Linked DNA regions of Homo sapiens. The protein of the gene in region 1 interacts with the protein of each later gene in a biochemical or structural test. Each region holds a gene or a part of one and is shown on either strand. Other genes may lie near its edges.

Region 1 (7,753 bases):
GACTCTAATCCAATGACTGGTGGCCTTATAAGAAGAGGTAAGAGACACCGAGACACACACCCAGGGAAGGCCATAAGAAGACAGAGGCAGAGATGGAGTGATGAATCCTCAAGACCAGGAAGGCCAAGCACTGCTGGTAATCAGCAGATGCTGGAGGAGGCAAGAACAGATCCCTCCCTGGAGCCTTCAGGGAGAGCATGGCCCAGCTGACACCTTGATTTCAGGCTTCTAACCTGTGAGAGGATACATTTCTGTTGTTTTAGGCCACCTAGTTTTTGGTACTTTCTTACAGCAGCTGTAATGCAAAAGGAGAGAGAGAGAAGGCTAGTGGGCTCTGCAGGGGTAGTTGTGAGGACTAACTATTTAATCAGGTATAGTCACCAAGTGTATATTTATGGAAGCTTGCTCTGTATCTAGTTTTATAAAAAGAACCAAGAAAGCTCTTTTTCTCCCTGGACTTTGTTTTATCTGTATTGGGATGTGAACATTTCTGCCCAGTTGTCTCCAGATTTCCAGTCTTGGTAGAGTGTGTTGCAAAGTGTCTCCCCACAGTCTCCTCCACTGGAACCCTGTGGGGAAAGGGGGACTTTCATGCAGGGGGCCTTGGCTTATTATCTCAGCAGCTATAGGGGTTGAGCCAACACACTCTGGCTCCTGCCGGGGGCAGGCTCCTGCTGTCTGCTTTCCAGCTGGGTGCCTGCTCTTTGCTCTCTGATTCCCCCTCCTGTTTGGTTCTCTGGCCCCTGCTGGCTGGGTCGCTGCCCCCTGGCATCATCACTCTGAAGCCAGCAGCCCTGCTGGGCCATTCACAGGCATACCCTAGTGGGGGTAAGGGGCAGATGTTATTTCTTTGTCCCCCTCCCAGCAAACACACACACACACACACACACACACACACACACACAATCTCACACTCAATATGTATTAATGTCCTGGGAAGGGGTCCAGGCAGAGAGTGATGGCAGGCTACAGGCTCTGGGGGGATGCAAATGGACCGGACAGTGTGTGTGTACATTGGGGGGAGGCAGTGGTAGTAATGGGGGGTTGTCTTCAGACTGCACTCCTGGGCAATTACATGCCAGCAGCTTCATCCACTACCAGCCGGCATGCAGGCTTTAGACCACCAAGAAGCCTCCCCATATGGCCCCAGCTTGGCCACTGAAAATTCCCAGCCACATTCTCTGGCCGATATGCTGGCACTAGGCCAAGAAAGTTAGCCTGGGGTAGCTGTTCTCTCCCCTAGCACGTGAACACACACACACACACTCACACACCAGTGGGGGGTGGGATGGAGAGTTCCTTTAGAGGCTCATGATTCCCAAAACACCACTCTTGTGTAGGGTTCCTGCCTTACTCATAATCACTTGCCCTTCCCATTTCCCATGTTCCTCTGCAAATCCACCCACCCAAAATACCACCATAGGAAAGAAATATTCCTCTTCTATATTACCTCATCAACTCCTGGCCCAGGGCTCTTTTCTAGGGCTCTACCTGTGAACCCACACATGCACACACACGCAAACACACACACACACACACACTTCTTCCCATCAGATGCTGTAACCTTATCAGAACAAACTTAGCTCCTAACTCTACAAATTCAACTCGCCCCAACCTCCCTGCTTCCTGCTACTCTCTCTTCTTTCTGCCAAATCTCCTTCAAAACCTCTGTTTCTTTTTCTTACCCTTTCTAAAGTCTGGACTGTACATATTGTTGGTAAAACTCTGGGAAAGAAGTAGTTTCCTGAGGTGGTAGAAGAGAGGGTCTCTAAACCCAACTCTGACTCTTTCTCCAGCCCAAGGTGGAAATTTATAAGTCAACAGAATGAATGCACCCCGGCTGAGGCTCCTCCAATTGCAGGGCATCTACTCAGTGTTTTAGGTGCTGTACAGGCACTTACAGTTGACAAATTAGGAAATGGACATAGTTGCAAAGAGTTGCATACCCACTCCAGAAAAAGGACAAAGAGTTGTCTTGGTAATTTTCAGAGAGCAGAGCAGGCAGTGAGGAGACTAGTAGGAGGCAAACCCCTTTCAGAACTGCCTATGGGGGTAGCCAGGAGAGAAGCTGGATGTGGACAGGGGCAGGGCCAGTTTCTAGGCTGCCTGTCTGACCCTCAGTAAAGAAGAGAAGGTGGGGAGAGGGCTGCAGAAGAGCTGGGAGGTGTGACTTCTGCTGGGCCTTCTCTGCCCACTCTCTGCTCCACTCTGCCTAGCCCAGGGCCGTAAGGACACTAGAGAATGGGAAGGAAAAGGGAGGGAACTTAGGTTATGGTTGGGAGGTATTTATTCTCTGATATCCCCAGTTGGGAGAACTCAGCCCTCTTGGCTTAGATCTGAGTTTGGTTTAAAAGGAGAGTATCATCAAGATAAAGAGAAGTACAAAGAAGGAAAGAGCAGAGAGAAACAAGAAAAAGTGGAGAGTGAAAATTAGAGAGAGCCCAGACGAGGTGAAGTGTAGGAGAGACAGCAGATTCCTGGAAAGTAGAGTGGCCCGGCTATTTGTCCAGCCTCCAAACCCACGTGACAGGGACTGTGAAGCAGCCTTGCTCACGGGTTGAGCCGCGCCTCCGCTCAGGGAACCCTGAGCAAATACGCCCTGATCCCCACATAAAGGGCCAATTAACTGCGCCGTCTCCGGGAACAAATCCGCTAACAGGGTGACAAGCCCCTAGACGCTGGCAGGCCCTGTGTTTGCGGAGAGGCCAGCCGGGAGCAAATCAGGGCATTAGGACCGGGCAGGAGCCGCATGGTGGGAGGGTTTCTGGCCCCCTCCGCCCCAGAGTAGGGCCTGGTACCAGGACGTGGGGTTTCTATCCCGATTCAGCCTCTGCTGTGATGGAACCCAGGTGACCGCGGTCAGCAGGGGGCGGAGCAAAGGGCCCCGGAGCCTCGAATCTCACAGGTCAGAGTAGATCAAGCACTCCAATTCCTCCTTAACAGATGGGAAAACTGAGATCCAAAGCGGTGACGTCTTGTACTTGGCAAACGTAGAATTAGAACCCACTTCTGTGTTGGTCATTCCTGAAGGATAGATTTCGGGTGGGAAATACATCCCTTACTTTCTCTCTTATCTGAATACCACCCTGGAGCGAGGAAGGGAGGGGCGTCAAATCTCTTATTATCTTCTTGCTTTTGAAAGGATGTGTCTCTAGCCCGTCTCCCACCTACCCCAGTCCTCAGCCTCAGGGTCTGCTCGGATTTATGTCTTCCCTGGGGGCTCCAGGGCCCTAGTCAGGCACCTGCAGATGAGGTGCTGAAAAGGACAGCTCCCAGGGCGCTGCGTGGCGGTGGGGTGGGGGGTCCATCCGGCCCCACCCCCACTCCCACCTACCCCCTCCCCCACACCTAGTGCTTCCAGCCTTTCTACGTCCCGCCCAGAACTGCTAGGGTTGGAAGGCACCTAAACACCCATAGTTGGAGGCTCACAGCCAGGCGCCTGGACTGAGGAAGGAGGCTTGGAACAAGCCCCCCACCCCTTGACAATGTCTCGGGTTCCCTTGAACAAGCTCTGCCTGAAATATTTCAATTCTTGATTCTGCTTACTCCAGAGTCTGCGACTGTATAGCACCCACCCCTCTGATCTCGACCCCTTTGGGGTCAGAAGCAGTCGCCCCATGAAAGTTGTCTCATCCCAGAACCTGACGGCTGAGCCAGAACTCTGGCACTGACTCTTCAATCAGCAGGGCCTTACCTCAGGTTAGGAATGCCCCGGCCTCTCTCTTTCCCTGATACCCCAAAGCCATCTCCTGTCTAGGAAAGTGAGTTTGTCGAGGTGGGTCTTCAGGTAGAAAGAACTCCAGAAAAGTCAGAAGCAGACCGCGACTGGAAGTGGGAGGTGGGAGTAGGGGCCCATGGTTTTCTTTTCGCCCCCCCCAGGAAGGACGACTGCTATCCGATTTGAACAGATTTGCACTAATTTTGCAGCAATCCCACATGCCTTTACAAAAATAATATTATCTTTGTTTTTGTCCTAGAATCCTTGGTTCCATTTCAGTCTCCTCAAAAACGTAAAACAATTTAATAAAAAATGTCAAAGCAGGGTAATGTAAAAGGATTCAAATAAATGACAGTTGCCTGGGTTTCCCTGGCTTTCAGTCTCCTACAGGAACTCCTAGATTAGGGCGTTTGGAGCAGGACTCCCGGGTCAGGGCGCGCCGCTCCATCCTCTGGCCTCCTGGCTGCAGACCAAAGGACCAGAGGGCAGAGAGGTGGACCTGTCTTGGAATTCTCTGCCTACTCCCAACTCTTGCTGCAAACCACCCCAGTCTCCTGCCCTTCCGTCGCCAAACCCCTAGACTTGGGAGGGAATGGAAACCAGAACTTTGGCAGCAAGGAGCATTGCTTGCGCTTTGCCTCAGTTTCCAAAAGGTTCGGGAAAAGAGAGGACAGATTCCTGTTCTAAAGTTGGGCAGAAGGGCAGAGTCCGACAGAGCCTCGTCCCTCATCTTGGGTGCTTTGAGACAGGGAAAATCTCTCGCCGCGTCCAGAACGGAACGCTGGGCTTGGGGTGCGGGGCGGGGACTCCAACTCGCGCGCTACGCTACTCGTGTCTCCTGCTCGGATAGTGACTGTAGAGGTAAGGGTGGGAGGGTGGAGGGAGGCGGATTAATCCCTTAATTACGCCGTGATCGGCGTGGCACCTGCTTTCCGCCTGCCCAGCTCCCAGGGGACTCCGGCACTAGGGGGTGGAGAGAAGGACGAGGGAAGGAGGAGGGCACGAAGAGGCACCGACCGTACCCAGGCGCACCGGCAGGAGAGCGGCACCGTGGCTGCCGCAGCGCGCAGAGGCTGTGGAGGGGCTTACGGCTCCCAGCCCACGGGTCTCAGACCCAGGGGCTGGGCCCCCAGCCCCCAGTCCCGATCCCAGCTGGGTCGAGCCATGCTGCGCTACCTGCTGAAAACGCTGCTGCAGATGAACTTGTTCGCGGACTCTCTGGCCGGGGACATCTCCAACTCCAGCGAGCTGCTCTTGGGCTTCAACTCCTCGCTGGCGGCGCTCAACCACACCCTGCTGCCTCCCGGCGATCCCTCTCTCAACGGTGAGACCCTGCCTCTTGGGGATATGGGATCCTGGGATGGGGATGAGGTGAGAGGGCGGCGTGGAAGGGAAGGAGAAGCGCTCCTGTCCCGAGGTCCGGGATTGAGTGGCGCCTCCCAGCGCCTCCCTGGGTCGTGGGGTCTAAGGGATAATTTGGAGCTTCGAGCACATGAGTGGGGGTACCCGCGGGAGGTCGAGGGCTTGGGAGAAGATGGCTACTGAGTCTTTTTACACCTCCTTCCCTTCCCCTACAACGCCCACCCCAGGTGAGAAGAACCGTTGCTGGTAACGGGCAGGGAAGTCCGAGCTAAGAAAGGCCCGGGCCCAGCGCAGGGAGGGCAGAGGAGGGGGCACAGTCTCCCGCCGGCCTCGGCCAAGCCAGGTCACTCGGTGACCCACCCAGGCAGCTGGTCTTCGGAACCCCGAAGTTTCCCAAGAACTCACTTAGGACCAGAGGAAGCCAAAATGCTGGATGTGTTTGCTACGGAGGGGATAGGGGCGGCGATCATTTTAAGGAAACTTAGAAGTTTGTCTTTCAGCGGCGGGACTCTCAGCCGGCCCACCCCGGCAGAGCTGTGGCGGGCGGGCGGAGCTGGCGGCGAGGTCGTTACCGCTAATTACGGTGATTAATAAATGACTGGGACAGCGCGCTCTCCCCTAGCGCCGCGGGGAAGCTGCGGGAGCCGGCCGCCGCCAGCCTGCGGAGAGGCCGGAGCGCGCCCCCTGCCTGCCGCATCGGGAACCCCCGCTTTACCGGGCGCTTTCGCGTGTGGTTCCCTCCAGGTGCACGCGGTCCCCATCCCTCTGCCTCGACCCACTCGAGTCTAGTGACGAGCACTGTGCTGGGGACTCGAAGGTGGAGAGAAAGGAGACCCTGGCAATATGTGTGTGTTCATGTGTGGGGCACATCAGGTGCTGAGGGAGGAGCCCCAGAGCCTCATTAGCATGGCCATTAGCTATTCATTAGGCTGCAGTCGAAGCATCTCCTGAGACCGGGAAGGGTAGAGGGGGAAATTCCAGGGAAAGGGCGCCTGCAGCTGTGTCTACAGGAATTAGGGGGAAAAGGCCGACCAGAAGGGTGTGGTCCGTATAGAAGGATTGGGGAGAAAGACGATGGGGGAGGAGCCCGATTCTCCAACCTCTTGACCCTCCTAGATTTCCAGGAGGTTAAGCACAGATCCCTTCTCGCTGGCACCCCGCAGAGTCCCGCTTCTGCTCACCTAGCGCGTTTACAGAGTGTTTTCACCATACTTTGTCTCATCTAAGCTCGAAACTTAGTGAGGTATGCAAGGAAGGTGTTGACAGACACATTTTGCCGCCGAGAAAACGCTTTATAGAGTGAATGGTGCCCTAATCGTCACAAAAGCAGCATGAAGCAAAACCTAGCGATAACAGATCAGTCCATTTCCATTACACCTGAGGGCTATACCAAGGGGAAAAAAGAATATTGGGGCCTGGTAGAATTTGATTCAGGTAGAGACTGTAGGAGCCAAGATAAGGTGCATATGCTGGGAACACAAGCCCTTAAATAATGGCAGAGTAGTGACGTTTATCCCCCAAGGGCTTTACATACATTATGGTCTTAGAGCAACCCTATCACTGCTCTCACATCACAAAGAAAGAAACTGAGACTGAGAGAAGTTAAATAATTTGCCCAAGTTCTTACAGCTAGGAAGCGTCAAAGTCTGAGATTCCAGCCCTGGTTGGTTCAACAGCAACACTTGCTCTCAATCACTCCAGTGTTGCTCACCACGGGGTGTTCCAAAATTGGGAATGGGAGGAGATGGAGGAGAAGAGAAGGGTGAAAAGCAGAGATTTCCATTTGGAAGGGAGGAGATGGAGAAAATTACTCTCCCAAGTGGGACAGAAATCGATCTTCTTGACTCCAGGCAATTAAAATAAACTCAGAACAGCGCCAGCACGGGTCAGCCTGTCCAGCTTTGTCTACAACAGAACTTCTAAGAGGGGGGGCAGGAAATGAAACCCAATCTCACAGGCGGGCTGGAAGCGGGAGGTTCCTGCAGATTTTGGAACAGGGTAGGAAGGGGGGAACAGGGGGAGGGGGCAGGGGGCAGAACAGATGCTTGAAGTGGTCCCTGGTTATTTTACAGCAGGTTATTAAAGGCTGCAGTGGCACCTACTGGCCGCCACGGGTTACAAATCCACTTTTGTTGGCTGGACTAGGGGCTGAGAGTGCCGGAGTATAACAGGCTCCGGGATCCTAACCGTGCTGCAGAAGGTGAAACAGGCCAAAGTCTGCAGGCCAAGTGACAGGTAGGACAGAATATGTGGATGAACTGATCGGAGTGAACAGGGGAAGTAGAGGAACATCAATCAGTAGAATAATCTATTGGAAACTATGCACCTGTCAGGAAAAGGAGCCTTACTAACATTTCTACTGCTATTTGCGTTCAATTCCTGTGACTTCACAGGACCCTTGAAATGAAGCGTGATTATCCGGGGTGTCAGTAAGAAGGGCCCTGTGCCGATTCATAGAATCCAGGTTGACAAGCCCTTCTAGGCCCGGCCCTGTCACTCCCGTCTTGCCTTTCATAAGGGATCCCAAGCCAGTCCACATTCCCAATTTCACTGAGCCAGGACCTTGCAGAAGTCAAGAACAAACTGTTGGCTCCAGTGCACGGTTTATGGTCTTTCACTGAGCAAGGACGATCCGTGAACCAGTGCAGGTGGAGATGGAAACCACTGGGCAGG
Region 2 (7,028 bases), on another chromosome or scaffold:
TCCACAAAATTTGCAAATACATAAAAATTAACATGCTCATGAACAACTAATTGGTCAAAAAAGAAATTAAAAGGGAAATTAGAAGGAAAGGGGAAATTAGGGAAATTAGAAGACATCTTGAAACACATGAGAATGGACACAACATACCAAAACATAAAGGATGCAGCAAAAGCAGTTTTCAGAGGTAAGTTTATAGCAACAAATGCCTACATTTAAAAAGAAGAAAATCTCAAACAAATAACCTAAAGTTACAAATAAATGAACTACAAAAAGAAAAACAAAATAAGACCAAAGTAAGACCAAAGGAATGAAATAATAAAGATCAGAGCAGAAATAAATGAGAGAGACTAAAATTAATAGAAAAAATAAATGAAACAGAGAGTTGTTTTCTAATGAAGATAAACAAAATTGACATGCCTTTAGCTAAGAAATTTAAGAAAAAAGAGAGAAGACTCAAATAAATAAAATCAGAAATGAAAGAAGAGACATTATTACTGATACCACAGAAATACAAAACATCATGAGACTACTATAAACAATTATATGCCAACAAATTAGATAAACTTAGAAGTTTAAGTGTATATGTCTAGGAATGTATTCATTCCTAGACACATACAACTTACCAAGACAAAATCATGAAAAAATGAAAAATCTGAACAGACAAATAACTTGTAAGCAAATTGAATCAATAATAAAAAGTCCTTCATCAAAGAAAAGTCCAAGGCCTGATGGCTTCACTGCTAAACTCTATTTAAATAACCAATACCAATCCTTCTCAAACTCTTCCAAAAAAATGAAGAAGAGGGAATAAATTCCAAATTTATCTTATAAGGCCAGCATTACTATGACACCAAAGCCAAATAAGGATACTACAAGAAAATTACAGGCCAATATTGCTGACGAACAGAGATGAAATAATCCTCAACGAAATACTAGCAAACCAAACTCAACAGCACATTAAAAGTATCATTCACCATGATCAAGTAGGATTTATCCCAAGGAGGCAAGAATGGCTCAACATACACAAATCTATAAATGTGATACATCAAATTAACAGAATAAAGGACAAAATCCACATGATCATTTCAACATATGCAGGAAAACATTTGACAAAATTCAACATCATTTCATGATAAAAACTCTCAATAAATGTATAGAAGAAATGTATCTCAACACAATAAAGTTCAGATATAACAAATCTACAGCTAACATTATACTCAACAGTAAAAAGTTGAAAGTTTTTCCTCTAAAATAAGGAAAAAGACAAGGATGCCCAATCTTGCCACTTCTATTCAACATAGTACTGTAAGTCCTAGACTTGCAATTAGGCAAGAGAAAGAAATAAAAGGCATCAAAATTGGGAAGGAAGAGGTTAACTTATCCCTGCTTGCATTTGACATCATCTTATATCTAGAAAATCCTGAAGATGCCACCAAAAAATTGTCAGAACTAATAAATGATTTCAGTAGAGTTTCAGGATATCAAATCAATATACAAACAAAAAGTAGTGTCTCTATGTTAACAATAAACTGGTGAGGTGCAGTGGCTCACACCTGTAATCCCAGCACTTTGTGAGCCCGAGGCGGTCCAATCACTTGAGGTGAGGAGTTCAAGACTGGCCTGGCCAACATGGTGAAACCCTGTCTCTACTAAAAATACAAAAATTAGCCGGGTGTAGTGACGGGTGCCTGTAATCTCAGCTACTTGGGAGGCTGATGCAGGAGAATAATTTGAACCTAGGAGGCAGAGGTTGCAGTGAGCCTAGATCTCACCACTGCTCTCCAGCCTAGGTGAAACAGTGAGGCTCCATCTCAAAAAAAAAAAAAAAAAAAAAAAATGAACTACCTGAAAAAGAAATCATGAAAACAATCTCATTTACAATGGCTATGAAAAAGATAAAATACTTACATATAAATTTAATCAAGAAGGTGAAAGAGCTGTATACTGAAACTATAAAACACTGATGAAAGAAATGAAGAAGACACAAATAAATGAAAAGATATGCTTTGGTCATGGATTCAAAGAATTAATATTGTTAAAATTTCCACACTATCCAAAATGATCTACAGATTTACTGCGACCCTTATTAAAATTCCAATGACATTTTTCTGTATTCATTCATCCATTGGTGACCATTAATTAGGTTGATCTCACATCTTGACAATTATGAATAATGCTGCAAAGAACATACGAATGCAAATGAACACATAAAGAAAATGTGGTATATGTACACAATGGAATACTATTCCACCTCAAAGAAGAAAATCCTGTTATTTGAGACAACGTGGATCAACCTGGAAGACATTATGTAAAGTGAAATAAGCCCTTCACAGAAAGACAAATACCACATGATCTCACTTATATGTGGGACCTTAAAAAGTTGAACTTATAGGAGCAGAAAGTAGAATGCTGGTTACTAGGGCCTGGGGATGGGGGATAGTTGTTGGGGAGATGTTGGTCAAAGGACCAAAATTCAATTAGATGGCACAATATGTTCAAGAGATCTATGGTACAACATAATGACTATAGTAATAATACATTGTACTCTTCAAAATTTCAAATAGATTTTAAGTGTTCTCACCAAAAAAAATTATAAGTACATGAGGTAATGAATATGTTAATTAGCTCAATTTAGCCATTCCACAATGTATATTTCAAAATATTGTGTTGTACACAATAAATGTATACAATTTTGTCAATTTAAAAATAATTAAATTTTAAGTAACAAAACATAAAACAAAAACAAAAGTCTCAAATCTCATCATCCAAATCATCTAAAACAGGTATGAGAAAGGCGCTGCATATAATCCATTCTGAGGCACACCTTGAAACATAGTATCTGCTCTCAAAAACACAATGGTAAGGCAGATAAAGATGATAGTTCTAAATATTCTCATTCAAAAAGGGAGAAAATGGAAGAAAGAAAAAAAAACAATTGCCATATCCAAGCAACTTTAAAATCCAGCCAGGCAAACACCACTTGGTTTCAAGGTCTAGAAATAAGCTTCTGTAATTATTGGTTCCACCCTCTGGAGTCAGCTCCATGCTCTGGGCTCTGAGTTCTGCCCTTTGAATTAACCTTCTTTTTTCATGAAAGGTAGCTTCATAGAAAGATGTTGACAGCCAAGTCAGCCTGTTTTTTGCTTGTAGAATTTTGGGGATCCAACACCTTCTTTCATTTTATTCTCTCACTGATTCTTTCAGGCCACACCAGCAGCAATTTTACTGCCATAATATTCTTAAGAACCTTGTAGATCTCCCATGTATGTCATGGGGATTCACTCCATTAAACAAAAAAGGCTCCTCCATAGATATTTCTTGGATAATTCCATCTCTATTTGTGACCTCTGCTGAAATGGTTGAGGGGATCTATGAGTCATATGTTCTTCAAAGAGCCCTCAATGTAACTGAATACTCTGACCTTTTGATATTTCTGAGGCACTAGCAAAATATTTTCTAGTCACATCCTTGGCTTTCTTTTCAGACTAGGTATTCCTAACAGTGAATATCCTATTTTAACATGTTTTGGAATCTGAATAGGTTGATAATTTCTCAAATATCAAGTTATGAATATGTTTTGCTCAACAATTATTCCCTAAATCTCTCTCTCTCCTCTCACGTTACTACAAACAGCAAGAAAAAGCCAGAGTGCACCTTCAACACTTTTGTTGCTTACAAATCACCTTAGCTAAAATCTAAGTTCATTGTTTACAAGTTTTGCTTTCCACATAACCACAGGGTACAATTCAGCTAAGTTTTCTGCCACTGTGTAAGAAGGGTCCCCTTTCCTTCAGTTTATAATAAAAATTCTTTATATCCATCTGAGCCCTCAATGGCAGTTCCTTCAATGTCTATACCTAACCAATGCTCGCTTATGATAATTTAGGAATATTCAGAGGTGATTTAGATTTTCTCTCTACCATGCTCTTCACTTTCTTCTAAGTCCTCAATAATAGAGTCACCAATAACCATATTTCTACTGAAAGTCTATTTAAGGCAATCTAGGCTTTTTCTATCATGCTCCTAAAAATTCATCCAGCATCTGCCCATTGCCCAGTTCCAAAGCCACTTCCATATTTTTTAGGTATTTCTTACACCAGCACCACACTTCCATGCAGGAAAATTTGTATTCGTTTCCTATTGCTGCTCAAACAAATCACCACAAACTTAGTGACTTAAATCAACACAAATCTATTATCTCACAGTTCTGGAGATCAGAAGTCCAAAATGAGTCTCATTGGTCTAAAATCAAGGTATCAGTAGCACTACATTCCTTCTGGAGGCTGTAAGAGAAAACTCATTTTCTTGCCTTTTTCAGCATCTAAAAACTGCCTGCAGTCCTTGGCTTGTGGCCCACTATCACCTTTAAAGCCACCAGTGGCCAGACTAGTTTTTCTCATATCACATCACTCTACACTGACTATTCTGCTTCCTTCTCCCCATTTCAAAAGATTCTTCTGATTACACAGGGCTCACCCAGATAACCTATGATAGCCTCCTAATCTTAAAGTCAGCTGATGAGCAAACTTAACTTCCCCTTGCTGTATAACGTAACCTATTGTTTGGTTCCAAGAATTAAGACATGAACATCTATGCAGGACCATTATTCTGCCCACCATAATATATATTTCCATAATGATAAATTTTCAATTCTGCTCTATTAGTATAGCCTACCATGTAACCTGGTTCCTGCTTTCCTCATATACTTTATTTCATATCACATGCCCTATGTTTCTACTTCTCTAGACTTCCTCCACGTTCTCAAATGCACATTCATCCCATGCTCAGAACCTTGCTCACACACTAGTCCCTTTGCCTATCCCCATAGCTTCTCTTCTTTGGACTACTCTTACATATCCTTCAACTATCAGCTTAAATGACTATTCTTCAAAGATGGTTTCCCTGAGCCTGAGACTCCCCTAACTAAAATATAGATTCCCATTATATCTTCAGTTTTTCTTCATATAATTTATCTTAATGGTGATTAGGTCTGTAACTATGTAATTGTTCAACGGCTATTTTTAAGACACTATGAAATCAAAGTTAAGTTCTAACGTCTTCATTTGTTATGTGCCTAACACCTAGCAGTATGCTAGTTTCCCAAAAATAACTTATTTGAAAGAATGAAAGTAACTCGCTTAATTGTCATAACAATGATCATTTTATAATTGAGGGTACTGGAGCTTAGAGAAATTAAGTAACTTCACCACAGTAAAACAACTAATGAAATTCCACCTCAGTCTATCTTGTTTCTAAGTGCATCTCTTAAACACTGTGTTATTCCACACTATTTGGGCACCAACAGCCATCACTTCAAAGTCCACAGATGCTCACCAACCATCATACTGAAGACAAATTAGTGCCACCTCGATTTCCTCAATGCAGTTACCTTTGCCTACTAAAGTCCATGGTCTATTACCAAATGCCTATTTCACTCTGCGTAACACTGGCATAAGAGGAGACGTACGACCTTTTTTTCCCTTTAAAACCTTAAAGTTTTTTACAAATAACTACTAAGCTTATTTTCAACTTAACAACTTGTAAAAAAAACATGCTTTGATTTTATCCACTTCTCTTCTATGGATTAATGAGATTATAAAATCTGTTAACACTTCAGAAGAAATTGTATTAAACCAACAGAGGAAATTATCTACTTTGGGAACCTGGCCAGATTAATTGTTAAAATCAAAGATCTAAAAATCATGCTAACATTGCTAGAAAGTCCTAGAATGGTGCTTCTGTATACTCTCATTCCTGATCCCTCATGTACAGAGAGGAAAAAAACATTATTATGATCATTATCTTGGGGAATACTTCCTAGATTTTAGAAAGTAGAACCCTTTATAACCTTTCATAGGTCTTTTTATTGTCTACATTCACTCCTCTAATTTTTAAAAGCATAATAAGTGTATTTTTGTGGCTGCAAGTCAGATTATAGCTAGAAATGACTAGAAAATTGCCTGGATTCCTTTTTTGAAAATTATGGTAATTGGCAAAGATCAAAAGCCATATTTATTAAGGTGTAATCTAATTTAGCATCTTATTACTTGAATTTCCAAAACAACTATAAATCAAATTTCAACAACAACAAAACCATTTTAGTGATACTATAGTTGCTATTATTATTTTTAAAACATATGACTTTAAAATATATTTCCATTTGTTTTTATTAGGTATAGATAATAATAAATTTACGAGTTTCAAAAGGTATTGAATTGCATGCATCTCAAAATCCACTAAGGAGAAAAACTGGCACAAGGAAAAGCAATATTAAATGAGCAAAAATCACTGGGAAAGTATATGTTGAGATTTCTTTATTTTAAAGCTAAAAGACAGAAGAAGATGGTTACATTACTGCAGGAAAAATTTGATGGTCCAAAAATCTCTTCCATCTATTTAGAACATATCTGATAGCACAAAGAAACTTATATGATAGGTTCATATGAAACCTGAGAGCATCTCACGGATTTTGTAATTTGTTACTATTCCTGCTATGACTATGTATAGTGTATATGTATATACCGTACAAAATATCTGCAGCACCCTCAACTCACTGTAAATAGAATCTATAAAATCTTCAGTCTGTATATTTTTTTCTCTCTAAAGCCAAAGGAAATCTCAATGAAGCAGCAAGACTCGGAACTGACTTCTTAACAAGTTTCCAAATGCTATTAGCAAAGACCTTGCCAAGGTAATGCGAAATTCCATGCATGGCCAAAGGGCCACCTTTTGTCAATTTCATAATCCGAATCTTAGAATAAAAGAAATCACAAGAGCATAATCAATACATCAGTAATATATGCCTACTGAGAACATGGCATGCAGGAAATACTTGCTGATTGATTGGTTATATTAAATAAAGTCCATAATTTGGCAGAAAATGAAATTTTACACCTTCAAATCTCATAAACCATATTTGTTAGGCATTTACTCTGTCTAAATATTGAGCTCGGCATCAACAAGGAAGGAAAAACAACCAATTCATCAATGTACATGGATATCTAGTTACTATGGACAATTCAAACAAA

Evidence for each region. The genes of interacting proteins can lie anywhere in the genome.
Region 2: the proteins of ROBO3 (region 1) and NELL2 form a complex in vitro, tested with the Homo sapiens proteins (one study listed by IntAct).

Annotation. Positions count from the first base shown.
Region 1 is NC_000011.10:124,860,696-124,868,448, forward strand, and holds the start of ROBO3 (roundabout homolog 3 isoform a precursor), read left to right. Parts: upstream 1-4,736; 5' UTR 4,737-4,882; coding exon 4,883-5,042; intron 5,043-7,753. UniProt on the Homo sapiens protein: Receptor involved in axon guidance during development. Acts as a multifunctional regulator of pathfinding that simultaneously mediates NELL2 repulsion, inhibits SLIT repulsion, and facilitates Netrin-1/NTN1 attraction.
Region 2 is NC_000012.12:44,866,307-44,873,334, forward strand, and holds part of NELL2 (protein kinase C-binding protein NELL2 isoform b precursor), read right to left. Parts: intron 1-7,028. UniProt on the Homo sapiens protein: Plays multiple roles in neural tissues, regulates neuronal proliferation, survival, differentiation, polarization, as well as axon guidance and synaptic functions.